2 separate regions of the Homo sapiens genome follow, and region 2 is linked to region 1. The links come from fine-mapping of genetic effects on gene expression. A gene starts in region 1. The other region holds a variant in brackets. All regions are shown on one strand. Distances are from middle to middle. Region 1 holds the start of CEP70 (centrosomal protein 70). Region 2 overlaps LOC124909438 (a long non-coding RNA gene).

What was found. PIP is the estimated chance that this variant, and not a neighbour inherited with it, causes the effect.
Region 2: its variant is the best candidate, but not a certain one, in a credible set for the expression of CEP70 in adrenal gland (GTEx, PIP 0.63).

The regions. Positions count from the first base shown.
Region 1 is chr3:138,592,936-138,595,850 of GRCh38, reverse strand. CEP70 (centrosomal protein 70) reads left to right here and starts at 1,591. Exons shown (of 18, transcript NM_024491.4): 1 at 1,591-1,653. RefSeq lists an enhancer at 1,327-1,386.
Region 2 is chr3:138,333,778-138,336,692 of GRCh38, reverse strand. The region is part of intron 1 of LOC124909438 (a long non-coding RNA gene); the gene reads right to left. Among named protein-coding and RNA genes, the nearest start is that of NME9, 5.4 kb to the right of the region's middle. The variant G/A (reference allele first, on the strand shown) is at 1,131.

The DNA of each region.
Region 1 (2,915 bases):
TGATCATCCATCTAGCATCCATTTTCCTCTTCTCCTTTACAGGTCTCCAGTTTTATTCAAATAGCCATGTCTCCACCTTGCAACTCATGTGACTCAAAGAGCACTGACACCATTGCCAATTCCAATTGTCATAGCTCCTTTTCACTTCTGGAACCCAGGCTTAAGCTGTCTGTACATTTCCCAGGCAGTTACTGGTAAAGAGGAAGAGTGTGTGCCTGTGTGAACTTATTGGCTCAAAAAACCAGAAGGAAAGGTTTTAGATGAAAAAGAAAGTATGTGGTCCTGATTTCTCCAAGTAGACATCTGGAAAATCACGTTAGTATGAATTTGAAGTCTACCCTTTTTTTTTTTTACAACAAAGCAGAGACTAATAGCAACTGGGTCCTTGTTAACTTGCTTAGCCACTGAATTAATCAAAGTCTCCCTTGCCTCTGAGCTTTCTGTTATGCGAGATAAGCAACTTCTTTATTTTTTAGGAAGACAGTTTAACTCAGATTCTATATCACGTGCATCCAAAATAATAATAACTGACTCAAAGATGTTTGGCCTCTACAATTAGGGCAGCCATTCTCAGAAGAGTATGCAAGGGCACCCTATTATCTTGGAAAAGGGAAGCACTGAGACTATTTGCATTTTGAGAACTGAAAATGCAATCTGCTAACCGTCGTTAGAGTGAATATCCAGGTATGGAAAGCACAGTGGGTAGGCGTAGGTTGGGGTAGGGACATGTTTGCATGGGGCAAACACAGAGATCAAACCTAAGTGTAGTCCCAGCTGCCTGGAAGAAGGCTAAGAAGGGTCTGAAAGTATTGAGCTCCAAGAGCCCTTGGATCTCCTGATGAGAGACCCTTGGCTGATGCCCTAGATGGGACATCCCTGTTGGCTACTGTGGGACCTGCATCATTTGACTGCAACACAGTCTGTTGCAACATTTGACTGTAACACAGACCTACATCATTTGACTGATTTGAAAAGACAAGTTGTCAACAGCGACACCATGTGGCTATAAGATACAATGACAATGGTGGACAGCTACAGCCTCAGGTAGGGCCTGACGCTTCGTCGAGATGTGGAAAATGCTGAATGGGAAGATGAACTGTCGTCAACAAATATTTATTGGGGTCCTCCAAATGTCAGCTGCTACAGTGGTCATTCAGGTCTGGAACATCGAGAACATGCTGACCCGTACCCCAGCAAGGGCTCGTAGTCGCGGCGGGGTAGGGGGCGAGAGAGAGGGCAGTCTCTGGTGGCCAGGTAACCCAGGCTTCACTTTCACCCACGGCCACAAGTATTTCTGACGTCTTCCGGGCAAATAAGCCTCCATGTAAGTGACAGGGCACCCAAGGAGTGCGTTGGAAGCGCCAGCGTGCCCGAGACCAGCACATCGCACCGACGCCTTCGTTTGCGGTAAGCCCCGCCCCCCGTAGTGAGCCAACCGGAGGGAGCGGGGCGGACCCAGCTTCCCGGAGAGGCTGGAGAGAATCGTTTGGGGGCATTCGCAGGCCAAAGAGGGGCTGGCCCTCGACGCGCTCGGGCTCGATTGGCCGCCCTCCCCCGGCGGTGGTAACGGTCGCGGAGGCGGGGCCTGACGTAGCTGATCCCAGCCTAACCTGGCCCGGCTGGCTGCTGGTGGGAGGCCGGCGACTGAGTAAGGTGAGTGGCTCTCGGGGCTCTCAGAGGCGTCGGCGTGAGCCCCTTCCCGGAGTACCCCGGACTTGACCTCACCTGGGCCTAAAAGTGGTCAGACTGACCCTTGTCGGGGAGGAGCCATCTGGGACAGGGTCGCGCCAATTAAAAATCCCTGCGTAAGGGTTTGGGGATCGGACAAAACTGCCTCCAGTCCCAGCTCCCCAGGCTTTGTGTTCTTTGGCTTCTCCTTTAATGTCTCAGCGCCTCCGATTCTTTATTTGTATACTAAAGCTGGTAATTCTTGCCTTACAAGGTGGTTGTGAGGGTTAAATGAGGCAGTAAGAGTAAAGCTTAGAATCACGTCGGGCACAGACTCGATTTAAGCTGTAGGTAATTACTCCATCCCCCAAAATCGACCCGGGCTGAAGCGCTAGTTTTGTGTCAAACAACCGCGAAGGTTGTTTGGGGAGTGAGGACTCGGAGCAGAAGGGGGCGGTTAGGCGAATAGCACAGGTGAGTATCTCTTTCTCCAGTTTATTAACCTCATTCCGGATTCAGGAGACCTCTGACTTTATACAGGGCCTAATAGGAGTTTTTCAAGGTGAAAAATGCCAGAAGGCTAAGTCACCTGTAACAGAGAGACCAATCAGAGTTTCCTTTTTTACTGCCACTTTGTTTTTCAATCAATGATATTAAACAGGCAGGGCGCAGTGGCTTACGCCTGTAATCTCAGCACTTTGGGAGGCCGAGGTGGGCGGATCCCCTGAGGTCAGGAGTTCGAGACCACCCTGGCCAACATGATGAAACCACGTCTCTACTAAAAATACAAAAATTAGCTGGGCATGGTGGTGTGCGCCTGTAATCCCAGCTACTCGGGCGGGTGAGGCAGCAGAATCGCTTGAACTCGGGAGGCGGAGGTTGCTGTGAGCCGAGATCGCGCCACTGCACTCCAGCCTGGGTGACGGAGCGAGACTCTGTCTCAAAAATATATGTATAATATATTAAACTCTGTGCAGGCATTACCCATATTGGTTTCAAGCCTCTGCATGAGTTTTGTACTTTAAATATTGCCAAGTAGACTCTGGCCTCCCCTGCCCCGCCTTTTGGGGAAGAGGTGGCTGACTTGGAGTTTTCCCTACAGCTTTTGCTTCAAAGCAAGGTTCTGCCCCTTCATGTCACCTCTCCTGAGACAGAATGATTTGGTTGAGATGACATTCCATTTTAACTCTTTCCTATTTGGGGTAAGTTCAGCTCTTTCTTAGGAACATTAAACAGCAAGTTGCAAT
Region 2 (2,915 bases), 260 kb after region 1:
CATAATAAAAGACTATGGCAGAAGAGTCAGTCTTTTCGTGAGCTCTGTAAAATGTCATACCTGGTCAAACCAATCCCCTAGGCCCTATGTAAATCAATTACTGCCTCCTCAATCCTCTTTACAAAACTGATCGCATTCCACCCCAAACCAAAGACCCCCTCTTGGGTGACCCGCTTTCTCAGTATGAGGAAGTTCTCTTTCTCCTCTTCTTTGTCTATTAAACTTTCCACTCCTAAACCCACTTCTCATGAGTGTCGGTGTCCTGAACTCTTTCTTGGCGTGAGACAAAGAACCACAGGTAAATCCTGAGACAACGGAGCTGTTTCACCAGCACTTTGGGAGGCCAAGGTGGGAGGATTGCTTGAGCCCAGGAGTTTGAGACTAGCCTGGACAACACAGCAAGACCCTGTCTCTACAAAAAATTTAAAAATTAGCTGGGAATGGTGTCATTTGCCTGTAGTCTCAGCTACTTGGGAGGCTGAGGTGAAAGGATTGCTTGAGTCCTGGAGTTTGAGGCTCAGTGAGCAATGATGATTGGGCCACTGCACTCCAGCCTGGGTGACAGAGTGAGACCTCAAAAAAAAAAAAAAAAAAAGCAGCAGCAGCTTAGGTAAGAGCCATTCCCTGCCACATGAACAATGTGGCCTCTCAACAGGAGATAGTCACAATGACATTCTGCCACCCATAGCCTGGGGCCAGCTTCCTGAGCATCTCTCAGTAACCGAGCCCCAGTTTGTAAAACAATGGAAAAATGATCTTCATTTGTGGTCACATGTTTTCATGAGTTTTAGTACTTGAAATATTGTAATACCAAGTCAAAGAAAAAAATTGCCTGGATGCTGAATTTGAAATGCAGGGCTTGCTTGCTCTAATTTAGCCCAATTTTCTGAAATCCAGTAGCATCATCCAGTAGCATCACGTCAAATGTCTTGACAAACAAGACAGTTAGAAAACACTTTTAAAATCCCTGATGGCTAGAATTTTAAAGTGTTATTTTTACATTAAAACAAATACGGATGTGGTATGTTGTATTCCATAAAATGCACACAAATCTTTGAGTTAAATATTAGTGATGTTTAGAGATCTCTAAATGCTTAAGGCCTTTTAGCATTAAGCCCTCAAATCTCCAG[G/A]GCAGCCATTCAGGAAACTTTGGGTGAAACACTGGAGGAGTGTGGTCCTCGATAATGAGGTCTTTGTAGCTTGACTGAAATCTAGCTCTGCCTCAAAAGTTTCAAGTGTATGGGCAAGGAGTTCTAATGGGAGGTTGGAAGAGCATGCTCTCTAGGAGGCTCAACAATCAAGGGCAAAGTTCATTACCTCTAGGGAGGTGTCAAGAACTGTAAATCATCTGAGATTTTACCCTCCTTGCAAGCTTACAAGTTATTCTTCCATAATCATGGATGCTGAAAGAACATATAAGTCGCTCCTGGGTCAGAGATGAAGGATAGTTTATTATTCAAAGCAATAGCAATAACCAAAGTATTAGCATTTTTGCATAGGTTTCCTGAACTGATTCCCATAGGACAATGCAGAGAGGGCCAGGTGACACCTGCACATGCAGCAGGTTGTGTTATAGGAGAAGAATCCTAGCTTCAAGAAACCAAAGCTTTTACACTGAAGAGTTAAGTATGCTTTCTACAGAAGGAGACATTATCTCTAACTTCCAAGGCTGTAAACAAACCTTTCCTTTGCTTTAGAAGGAGATACTACCTCTATCTTTCAAGGTTGTTCACTATATAAACATTCCTGGAAAGGCTGTTGGGAATAAAGCAGTCAGTGCCTCTGCTTGAAAAATATGCAGATGCATGAGAGACCCATGGAGAAACATCGGTCAACAGGAGGGACCTATGGTCAGCTTCCTCTACAACATGTAGAAGTCTCCTTGTCATCTCCTCTGACTTCTCAGTAAGCATGAATGGTGGGCAGCATAGGGCTCATTCGTTCAGGTCATGATGGAAACCTGAGGTTCATTAAAAAAGATTCACTAGGAAGTAGCTGGGACAACCTGCCCTACAGGGACTCACAATACAGATGAGCAGTTTGATTGTAACCCCCAATGACTACTACGACACGAAGAAAATGCAACACAGTCCAAGGCAGGTTGTTAGGCTCAGACTAGCTGCTTCCATTTTATGGCTCACTATCTTGTGTTTTCAAAGTTACCCTCACAATCAACAAAGAAACTACCAGCACTAATAAGTGAGTTTAGCAAGATCTCAGAATACAAAGTCAATATACAAAAAATCAGTTGTATTTCTATGTACTGGCAGCACAAAATTGGCAATAAATTTTGAAAGTCAATTTCATTAATAATAGCATAATGAATACAAATGACTTGCAAGATTGGTTTAACAACTATAAAACATTGCTGAAGTTAAAGAATAAATGGAACACACATCCTATTTATGGACTGGAGGACTCCGCATTATTAAGATGTCAATTCTTCCCAAGTCAATCTTTAGGTTTAATGCAATTTAATCAAATTTTCAAGAGGATTTTTAAAGACAGACATATTAACAGATTGACTCTAGGATTTGTATGAAAGTAAAAGAACTTAAAATAGACAAATAATTTTGAAAAAGAAAAACAAGGTTGGATGACTTAGATTACCTGATTTTAAGACTTACTATACAACTAGTAATCAAGTACTGGTATAAGGATGGTCAACTAGATCAGCGGAATAGACTAGAGAATCCTGAAGGAAACTCACACTTACATGGCCAGTTGGTTTTTGACAAAGACACCAAATCAATCCAGTGAAGTAAAGGAAAGTCTTCTCAGCAAATGGTGCTTATGCAACCAGAAATCCATATGGGGAAATAAAAAACCTCATATCCCACTCAAATATTAATTTGAAACAAATGGTGATATACTGAGACCATGGAATACGAAGTAATAAAAAGGAATTAAAATAT